Linked DNA regions of Homo sapiens. The protein of the gene in region 1 purifies or fractionates together with the protein of each later gene. This does not show direct contact. Each region holds a gene or a part of one and is shown on either strand. Other genes may lie near its edges.

The links.
Region 2: the proteins of PHF12 (region 1) and GATAD1 purify together in Homo sapiens (affinity purification with mass spectrometry; 7 studies listed by BioGRID and IntAct, with this or other methods). This does not show direct contact.
Region 3: the proteins of PHF12 (region 1) and RBBP7 purify together in Homo sapiens (affinity purification with mass spectrometry; 7 studies listed by BioGRID and IntAct, with this or other methods). This does not show direct contact.

The regions. Positions count from the first base shown.
Region 1 is NC_000017.11:28,909,839-28,913,589, reverse strand, and holds part of PHF12 (PHD finger protein 12), read left to right. Parts: intron 1-312; coding exon 313-1,108; coding exon of another isoform or gene 1,109-1,134; exon of another isoform or gene 1,135-1,446; intron 1,447-2,352; coding exon 2,353-2,478; intron 2,479-3,220; coding exon 3,221-3,364; coding exon of another isoform or gene 3,365-3,555; exon of another isoform or gene 3,556-3,751.
Region 2 is NC_000007.14:92,457,482-92,460,726, forward strand, and holds the end of GATAD1 (GATA zinc finger domain-containing protein 1), read left to right. Parts: 3' UTR 1-2,594; downstream 2,595-3,245. UniProt on the Homo sapiens protein: Component of some chromatin complex recruited to chromatin sites methylated 'Lys-4' of histone H3 (H3K4me), with a preference for trimethylated form (H3K4me3).
Region 3 is NC_000023.11:16,868,241-16,871,991, forward strand, and holds the start of RBBP7 (histone-binding protein RBBP7), read right to left. Parts: upstream 2,123-3,751; 5' UTR 1,814-2,122; coding exon 1,798-1,813; intron 1,624-1,797; exon of another isoform or gene 1,402-1,623; coding exon of another isoform or gene 1,254-1,401; intron 981-1,253; coding exon 836-980; intron 1-835. UniProt on the Homo sapiens protein: Core histone-binding subunit that may target chromatin remodeling factors, histone acetyltransferases and histone deacetylases to their histone substrates in a manner that is regulated by nucleosomal DNA.

The DNA.
Region 1 (3,751 bases):
ATAGTGCTGGACATACCACAGGTGCTCGGGGTAATTGCTGAATATTGGTCACAAGTAAGCCTTAAAGGCAGAGTCAAAATGCAGATCCCAAGCTCTGTTGGCCAGAGGGAGTGTTGGCCTGCTGAGGGTACCTATAAGTCTTGCTTGGGAATGGAAATGGAATTCTATCAGGAGTCAAGCACACCCTTTGTGAGCATTCATGATGGGACCTCGGAAACTGCTTGTCAGCTCTGCTGCAGCCCTGGCCACTGTGGCAGGAAGGACCGGCGCCTCTCAGGCTTCTCACCCCCCTCTCCTCTCCTTCCATTGCAGTGGCTCTGTAGTGTTGTTGCGCTCCAGTGCAGCATATTGAAACATTTATCTGCTAAGCAGATGCCTTCGCATTGGGACTCTGAACAGACAGAGAAGGCTGATATTAAGCCTGTTATTGTGACTGACAGCTCAGTCACCACCTCCCTGCAAACAGCTGACAAGACACCTACACCTTCCCACTACCCCTTGTCCTGCCCCTCAGGGATTAGCACCCAGAATTCCCTGAGCTGCTCTCCACCCCACCAGTCCCCAGCCCTAGAGGACATCGGCTGCAGTTCTTGTGCGGAAAAATCCAAGAAAACCCCTTGTGGGACTGCCAATGGGCCAGTGAACACAGAGGTGAAAGCTAATGGCCCACACCTCTACAGCAGCCCTACTGATTCCACGGACCCCCGGCGACTTCCAGGCGCTAACACCCCACTACCAGGCCTCTCACACCGGCAAGGCTGGCCCCGGCCCCTCACGCCACCAGCGGCTGGGGGCCTTCAGAACCACACCGTCGGCATCATTGTGAAGACAGAGAATGCCACTGGCCCCAGCTCTTGCCCCCAGAGGAGTTTGGTTCCTGTCCCAAGCCTGCCCCCTTCCATTCCCAGCTCTTGTGCCAGCATCGAGAACACCAGCACTTTGCAAAGAAAGACTGTCCAATCACAGATAGGACCTCCGTTGACAGATTCAAGGCCACTGGGCTCACCCCCAAACGCCACCCGGGTGCTCACTCCCCCGCAAGCAGCAGGAGATGGTATCTTGGCCACAACAGCCAACCAACGATTCAGCTCACCAGCGCCATCGTCAGGTGAGTGCTGCTCAGCCTTGGGTTGATTTGGAATAATTTTATGCTCTTTCTGGCAAATAAGATTCTAAAAGCACTTATATCCCTGTGAATACTTCAGAGGACTTTGGCCTTTGTATTGTTTGTCTTACTCTCATTTCCGTAATAGAAGAGGAAGCACATGTTAACTTGTCCCGTTTATAAATGGGACTGCTTAGGCTCTGAAAGCTTCAGTGATTTCCTTAAAATGACCTACTGAGTCAGTGGCAGGATTGGAACCACAGCCCAGGTCTCCTGACTCCATCCCATACCTTCCAGGCCTAGGCCTCTGCCTGTTTTGTTCTGTCACCTTAAAAGAAGGCAGGGTGCTCTCTGGAATTACTATGATCAGCCTGAGGTTCTGCGTGATGGCCTCAGTATTGTCAGATCCACACAAAAGAATGGATTCATGCCTGATGCATATTCTCAGAAAGAGTTAATCTGATGAACTTCCATGTCAGGAAGCAGGGCTAGACAGCAGCACTGTCTTTCAGAGGAGCTGTAGAGTGGGATGCCCACAGGGATTGTTCTAGCCCAGAAGCGTGCCCTCAGGCCACATGCCAAAGGGCGGTCCTTCAGGTCTGTACTTGGCCTACTGTGGACCTGCTCTCTCAGCTGTCCCCAGAGAGCACTCAGGACCTTGAAGTTGCTGACCCCAGCATCTGAACCAGGTTTCAGATGCTGCCGGAACCCTCTGTGGTCTCTCCCGTCTGAACTGAAGCCGGCCTCCTAGTCAGCTGGGAGTCTCGGTAACCAGATGATTGTGATTTCTCTGCATGGGAGCCCCTGGTCCCAGGATGGCCCCGCTCCCAGGCTGTTTTCCTATCTCTGTTTATCGCTTAAAACCAGCGTGGGTAGATTCTCCACGCCGTGAGTCATATTTCAGTAGGCAAGAATTATAAGGGCAGGCACTACTTATTTTAAAGTAGAGGCAGCAGGGAGGTGGTCATGGCCCAAAGAATGAAGCTGCCCCACCACTTTCCCCAGAGCAGTGGATTTCAGTGGTTCTCAGTGCTCTGGAGACTCCTGCGTGCCTGGGTGCTTTGTCGTTCCATCTGCCCTTCCTCACCACACGTTTTTAGCTCTAGGAGTTCCAGAGCCTATGGGTTGAGAATCAAGAAGGGAACATCACCTTGGGTCCGAAATCCAGACCTGTCTCAGCAGTGGGGGATTGGACGGTGGGTTTCCCTCAGGCGACGTAAGTAACAGTCTTCCTGCTCCGTCCCCAGATGGCAAGGTCAGCCCCGGCACGTTATCCATAGGAAGCGCTTTAACCGTACCCTCTTTCCCAGCCAACTCTACTGCCATGGTGGACCTCACCAACTCACTTCGAGCATTTATGGATGTCAATGGAGGTGAGTGAATGAGCTGCTGCTGTTCCACCGTTTGCTATGTTGAAGGTGCTATTCCTATACAGCATTCAGCTCATTTCAGAAAGGGAGGGAAGGGACACCTGATCCCAGAGGCCTAGGGGGAGATGGGAATGAGGAGTATCCTTTTGGATGGGGGGGCGGGGTGAAAAAGAAAGCTCCTTCTGTAGCTCTGCCTTCTACATGTGCATATACACATAATCAAAGATGAAGGGAGGACAGAGCCAAGCTGAACCAGTGAGACGAGAACAAAATCACTTTAGGCAGATCACCTGGATTTGCAGAATAAAACTAAGATCCTCACTCCCAAAGGAGGGACCTCATCTGTGGGAAACCCCCAAAGTCCAGGAGAACAGGGACAGATCTTGATCTCTGTGAACACAAGGTGGGTAGAAAGTTCAAGTCTCAATATCAGACATCCAGGCCCTCCCCCACAGACAGGCAAGTGGTTTATTCCACTCTGCCTTTCTAGGGGCACTTTAATTAAAATCAGTCCACCCAACTACAGGAGGCAGCTGCACAGGCTGCATTGGGGCCCATCTCACTGCAAATGGCAAGTGAGATGCCCAGCTGCAGATCCTTGTACGCTCTGCACTCAATGCTGTTTGAGTAAAAATCACTTGGCTGGATTTTAGAAATGCCAAACTATTTGCTCTGTGACCCTGATTTGCTTCCACATTCCACTTCCCATCTCAGCTGCTTTTTAATCTTTCTCTTTGGCTAATAGAAATCGAGATAAATATGCTGGACGAGAAGCTGATCAAGTTTCTGGCCTTGCAGAGAATACATCAGCTTTTCCCCTCCCGGGTCCAACCTTCACCGGGCAGTGTCGGGACACATCAGCTGGCTTCTGGAGGGCACCACATAGAAGGTGCGCATGTACACACCTGTCACCACATCATCAGATCTCCCCTCTACGTGTGCGAATGGTCACCTTGCCTCCATGGAGAATCTGAGCTTCCAGTATCTCAAACCTCCTTGTGTGCTTTTCATGGGCTTAATAAAGCACCATGGTTTTTTTCTGAAGAGAGCAGGAACAAGATGGCAACCACAGCTTTCTGATCAGACTTGGGGAAGTCTGCTGTAACTTTCTTTCATATATAAGTCCACTTCGAGACACAGCAAAGCAGCTACCAGTACCTTTGGGTATATGTAGTGTACTTTCTGCTTACTTGCTTTCAAATATTTGAATTAGAAGGGCTTCCCGACTGAGTGCAGTGGCTCACACCTGTAATCCCAGCACTTTGGGAGGCTGAGG
Region 2 (3,245 bases), on another chromosome or scaffold:
ATTAAAAGGGATAGAATATAATGAAATATATTTTGAACTTAAATTATATTCTATATGTGTATCTTCCTAGGCAAAAGCTGTAATTTCCAGAGAGACCATTAGGAACAGGTAGTATCTATTTTTCTCCATTATTTATTTCTAGAAACTCATAAAATGGATTGTATTTTTCTATAAGAACAAAATATTAATTAAGGTATAGATGACTGACCAAGGGCTTAATCAAATAAAATGACTAACAGCATCTATCATAAAGCCACACAAGCCTTATGTTCTCATCTCAAAAATGCTGTGACAGCTTTTTGGCTGCTTTAACCATAAGAAAAATGATTGGTGGATGATTTTATTAGCCCAGGCTTTTAAAAACTTTCATCTAGGCCACGTGCGGTGGCTCATGCCTGTAATCCCGGCACTTTGGGAGGCCTGAGTGGATGGATCACTTGAGGTCAGGAGTTCAGGACCAGCCTGGCCAACATGATGAAACCCTGTCTCTACTAAATATACAAAAATTAGTTGGGTGTTATGGTGCATGCCTGTAATCCCAGCTACTCGGGAGGCTGAGGCAGGAGAATTGCTTGAACTCGGGAGGTGGAGATTGCAGTAAGCCGAGATCGTGCCACTGCACTCCAGCCTGGGTGATAGAGCAAGACTGTCTCAAAAAAGAAAAAAAAGAAAAAATTTTAATTTAATCCTTCTGTAGAAACAGGCATTCAGAACCATTCCATTGATCTTAATAAAGCTGCTCTTTACTGTTTCTAGTCAAAAATGAGACTTCGATCAAACCATAAGATTTTATACTGCAGATAGTCAGCTTCACCAAAGCCGCAGAGGAAACATGTCGAGATCAGGCTTCCTGCTTGATAGTCTCTTGACTACCATTAAAACGAATATTGGGAGGTCATGAAAGTCATTGGTAGGCCATTAGCATTGATATCTTTAAAACATCTACCCTAAACCATCTGCTATGGACCCATAATAAGAGGCCTGTTGTATATGAAATTGTCTAGAATTCAGGTGCAGGTCTTTGCCGGTTAAGTAAGGGAGCAACACGTAAAATGGGAGAGGAGTGGGGTGTACTCACTTGCCTCCTCTTTTGTCCTGATTTAACCAGCATTTTTCAACCCTGGGAAAATTTGCAGAATCTAAGTTGATTGTAATGATTTTGAGCTGCAGCAGCTTTAACTCTTACCCTTTTTCCACATAGTTATGGTGTTTGAGTTGGAAAGAAACAACTATAGGTAGCTACACGTACATAATTATCTCTTTATTCACAAAGGGTATAGTAAAATTGATTGTAAATAACTTTCTAAGTGCCAATATTCAAAACTTTTGGATTAAAATGTATTTTTCACCGTGCATTTACTTTGGATGTATTTATTTCATTTAAACAATTTAAATGGGGCTCTTTAACCAAAAATGGTATTTAAAACCAAAACAGTATCGTACTTAGAATTTGGAGTAGAGGCCGGGCACAGTGGCTCACGCCTGTAATCCCAGCACTTTGGAAGGCTGAGGCAGGCGGATCACCTGAGGTCAGGAGTTCGAGACCAGCCTGGTCAACATGAAACCCCGTCTCTACTAAAAATACAAAAATTAGCTGGGCGTGGTGGCGTGCGCCTATAATCCCAGCTAGTCTACTCGGGAGGCTGAGGCAGGAGAATCGCTGGAACTCAGGAGGCAGAGACTGCAGTGAGCCGAGATCGCGCCACTGCACTCCAGTCTGGGTGACGGCATGACTCCATCTCCAAAAAAAAAAAAAAAAGATTTTGGAGTAGATTCATCATTAATAAGTAACAGATTTTAGGAAAATCAAAAAATGGCTAATAAAATGAACACAATGTAAAACATTTATTAAAATGTAGACTTTTAAAAATCTATAAATTGATCATCTGTTTATAAATTGGCAGATGGTTGTGTACCATCTTTTAAAATAAAGATTGAATTTCACCCAGTGTGATGGTTCCCATTGCTTATATTTCTCCTGCTGAGGCCGGACCTGATATGGCCCTGGTCTGTGTTCCCAGCCTTGTTTCCTCATTACCACTAAAATCTTTCCCCTGTATGCCCGCCCAATTTTTCTGGCTCTGAGTCCTTGTTCATACTGTTCTCTCCAATTCTACCTTCCAAAGGCCTTTCTTAACACCTTCGGATTCTTTCTTTGAGAACTTTCCAGATTCCCATGCCTTTTTGGAATCAATCTCTATCCTATTGTCATCACATTTAAGTTTCTACTTCCATCATCCTCACTCCTATCCCTTTGGTCCTGGGATGACAGGGATGCTGTGTTTTATTTACTCATCTTTGTAACTTCCACATAACCTAACCCCGGTTCTTGCTTATGGGAGATGCTGATTGTAGGGTCTGAGTTAGATACTGTTAACTAAAATGCTTGTTGATATTTTAGTTATTAATTCATATTAACTTTGGCTGAAACTTTTAAATTCTATTGTGAATAGTCAAGTAAAATTTAGATTGTTACATTCTGGGTTAGTATTAGATTGTTTTTAAGATTGTTTTAAACAAGATGTTTTTAAGATGAGTTTTAAATAGTTCTCTTAACACAAATAAAGCTTAATATGAGTATTTGAAGGAAATTATCCCAAACCATTCCAGTTCCTGGCTGTGAAAGGCTTTTCCAGGCCTAATAAGTTTTCCACTTCAGCCGTAAGTAGGTGAAATCAAATGAACAATAGAGGGAAATGTATTTATTTGCTTTATACACATGCATGTGTGTTGTGTCTACATATAAACATTGCACACGCTTAGAATGAAGTTTCTGTCATGCCCAGAAAAGGGAGAGGCATTTTTGTGGATTTTGTCTGGCTGCCCTGGGGATGTTTGAAGAACTGTGCTGTTTACTTCATACCAGGTGTGTGAGCCATACCTTTGGTAGGAGGGTATACCTCCTACACCCAAGAAATATAAGCCAGGAGAAGGTCTGTGCCAAGAGAAGGAACCCAAATGACCCACAAGAGGTGGGCCATTAATTATTGGGTCAGATGCATAAATGCACAGTAATTTATTTAAGCACCTCTTAATGGTGACCCACAAGGAAGATTGCTCGTAGTAGCGGAAAGGTTCACAATAAATAAGAGAAAAAAGCAGAATGTAGAACTGTATGATAGCAATTCTGCAAACAAGAAGCATCTTTTATAAAAGATGGAAGGAGCCCAGGCACAGTAGCTCATGCCTGTAATCCCAGCACTTTAAGAGGCTGAGGTGGAGGATCACTTGAGCTGCAGTGACCC
Region 3 (3,751 bases), on another chromosome or scaffold:
CCTGACCCCATATTTAATACACTTTAAAAGTACATGGTCAAGTTCCTACTAGAAAAGGTGCAAGTGAATGAGAAAGGCAGTCTAATGCAGGGACCAGCTGTGTGATCTTGGGATGGCACTTAAACTCTCACTCCCAGTTTCCTTATCAGTAAAACAAGGATGATGAAAAGTACCTACAGCATAGTACTATTATGAGGATTACAACAAACAACAGGACGTAGATTCTTCAGATGTGCCAGGCCCTGTTCTGAGTGCTCAATAAATGCCAGCAATTATTACCAGAGAAACTGCAGATGTAACAGAAAAGAATACTCTTATGAAGACTAACAGCAATCTCAAAGTGTATTCCATAAGCCGATAACATCTTTTCTTTGGTCAATTGTTGACAAGGTCTTTTTCCCTTTACCAATTAAAATGTATTTATCTTGGATGACTGTTACGTGTGTTCACTTTGTAAAAATTTATCAAGCCATACAACACTTAAGATGTGTGAACTTTTCCGTAAATATTCTATTTTTCAGTAAAGTTTTAAAGAAACGCATTAGTTTGGGCCCAGAAAGATGCTGCTCTACATTCAAGCCCAGGAAATGTCAAATATATTCAGTGCTTCCTCCAAACACGATTAATCTCACAACAGCTTCTTTCTCCCCTTTTACCACCACACTATACACCAGAAATCATCCCACAAATCACGTAAGTTTTGAAAATAAAAACCACCTGCCACCTCATGCAAGGGCTGATTACATACTTATGTTCTATGCATAAAACGCCAAAACTAGGAAATTCAGAACGACAGTTAAATTTAAACAAAATAAAAGTTGCCAGAAACCCTTACTTAGTCACTTCAGGAAGCCACTGAACGGTAAGACTGGGCCACTGAAGAGCATGGGTCATAACCAGGTCATATAGAAACGGTGTATTCTTCTTCCAGATTTTATATTCTTCATTGATGACACGCTCCTCCACAGTATCTTCAAACACTGAAATTTGGAGAAAGCCCACACGATTAAGTGGCTGAGATAGATCAAAGTCAGAAATTGGAGGTCACCTCAAGATGGCCACACCTCATGTACTCTTTCCTTTTACCTCTAATTTGGACACGGACAACTAACTGCTCTTCCAGAAGGTGGAGAAAATACTAACAATCAGGAAGCCTATTTTTTCCATTGAGATCAATACCCCCTGCGTACACCATGTTGGGTAGTCAATTACACGGACATGGAAATTGTTTACCCTGTTACAGCTGTTCGCACCTGTTCTAAGATGACGACCTGTACGTACAGGGGCTGCGCGACCCAGTCGGGAAGACAAATGCACGTGTAGCAGAAGCCCACAGGCCTGGTCTCTCCAATCCCCATCAGGGGAGGCCCCAGCTCCCACGACGCCCGCCTCGGCAGCCATAGGCCTGAGGACCCCAGCAACCCCCGGACAAGGGCCGCGACCCCGAGGCGGTCAACGCGCGCGCGCGCGTAGAAAGAGCCGCGGCGCTCGCTTCCCAGCGGCGGGGGCCGCCTCCGCCCCGGGGCCGAGGGCGCCGGAGGGAGCGCAGCCGCTGGAGGAGGGAAGGGAAGAGGGGGGCCCAGCCCTCGGCCCCGCGCCCGGCTCCGGAAGTGCTCGGAGCCCTCGGCGCGGCGGTCCCGTCCCGCGCAGGCCCCTCGAGGCGCGCGCCCAGTCTCGCGCCCGGCCCCGCCCCCTGCTCCGCACGCCAATTCGCGCCTTTCGCCGGCGCGTGCCGCGGCCTCGCGCGCCCGCCGCCCCCCGCGGCCCCGGCGCGCGCCGCCCCGCAGGGCCTCTTACTCTCTTTACTCGCCATCTTGCGTCGGGTCGTTCGCCCCTCGCCGCCGCCTCGGACTCCTCTCGTTAGCCAAGAGCAGCCCGACCGCTGGCGCTCCTGCCTTTCCCAAGCGCGTCACACTCCCCACTGTCGAAAGCCCGGGCCCCGTCTTGCTGCCTGGGTGCTCCCCAGACGCCGCGTCCTTCTTTCCTGCCTCCTCCCCGCTCGCGGGTACCGAGGTCTGAGGCGCTCTTCTCTCTCTCTCCAAACTTGGAACGAGACTTTTCAACCCGCGCCTCCCAGCCCGCCCAGGCAGCTGAGCGCAGGCGCATCCGCCCTGGGAAAAGTGAGAGGAGGCGGAGAGGCGGGTCTGGGAGCCAACGGCTCCGGCGCCGAGACCAATGACGCGCGGCGGGCGGGTTTCACGCGGCGTTCGGAGGCGGGCTTCTGGGGGTGGGCGGAGCGTGCCGCGGCAGGAAGTTGGCGATGCGCAGGCGCGAGGGCTCGCCCGGCGCTCCCAGGGCCGGCCGCGGAGGCGGATGGGGCGCGCGGGGGCGGGGCGGATGAGGGCCCGAGGGGGCGGGGCGGATGGGGGCGCGCGAGGGCGGGGCTGATGGAGGCGCGGCTGGCCGGCTGAGTGGGGGCCGCGAGCCCCGGGGCGGCGAGCCTTGGGGCCCGCGGGGCGTGGTTGCTTGTAGCGGCAGCGGTGGTGGGGGTGAGAGGGGGGCAGGGAGGCTGCCGCCGCTTAGCCAAGCAAAATCTCAGAGCAAGAGGGGAAAATGGTTCCTGTTCTCGAGAGATTACTGTGCCTTCAAAGTCTCCCTGATAATCACGGACATGCAATTCTCTGCACCCCTGAAATGTTCTCCTCCAGCCGACTGGCCTTTCCTGGGGCCCGGTCGGGCCGAGGTGGGGCTGGTCTCAGACGGAGGAGAGCTTTTGGAGAGGCCGCGGGCGTTTTCTGCCTGCAAAAGCCGCCGGGCCGCCCTGTTAGGCTAAATGTGCAGCCTGTGGCGGCACAGGCCGCCGGCGGGCCGAAGCCGATTTACACTGTTACATTTTAATTTGTTCGATGTTTGGGTCCTTAAGATGATGGTTTGCGGCCTCTTCGCGCTTCAGGGGATTTTGTCCCTGCACTGGCGTTCCTTTCTCATCCCAGCCCCGGCCCCTGCTGAGTCATTTTTGTCACCTGCAGGGGTCCCAGCGCGACCCCACCCCAAGCTGGCGGAGCTGGAGAGAGCAGGGCTGAACTACCCTGGGCCTGCTTACCTGAGCCCTGCTCTGCTCAGGAACTTCATAGCCCCTGAGGAGTGTGTCGGGGGAGGAGAAAGCTGGCTGCAAGGCCAAAAGGGAAATAGAAGAAAATGAGGGCCAGGAGCAGAGGGGACGGAGTTGGGGGAGGCGACCAAGGTGCCTGCGTGCAAAGGGAACCGAAGTGTACGTCCAGCTCCGGGAGAGGCTCCTCTTGCAAAAGCACCCCCGGAACATTTGCTGCCTTGATACCTTTCCAAGTGCCTTCATGCTCAGATGCTATCTTGCAGATGCCGCTGTCATGCCCACTTTTCTGACCGGGACGCAAACCCAGACGTTAGTCAGTGGCAGAACCAGTCACATTCCCTTCTGTAGATATTTACTGTGTTGTTTCCGATACAATACCGTTCATTATTATAACGCCCTCCCCCCATTCTGGGTCAAGGAATCTTGTTAGTGCCTAAGGCTGAGGGGGTGGCTAGAGAGGGAAGAGAGTTGGAAGGGTGTTTAAGCAATACAGCCCTCATATTCTAGGACATTAGTTGGCAAGACTTTTTCTAAAAGGACCGAGATAGTAAATATTTTAGGCTTTGGGGGCAACTGCTCGACTCTGTCGCTTTGCAGCGCAAAGCAGCCATGGAAAATATGGATGCATTTGGCTGCGTTCCGATAAAACTACAGACACTAAAATCGTTTTCACGGGTCACAAAATCTTTTGATTTTTTT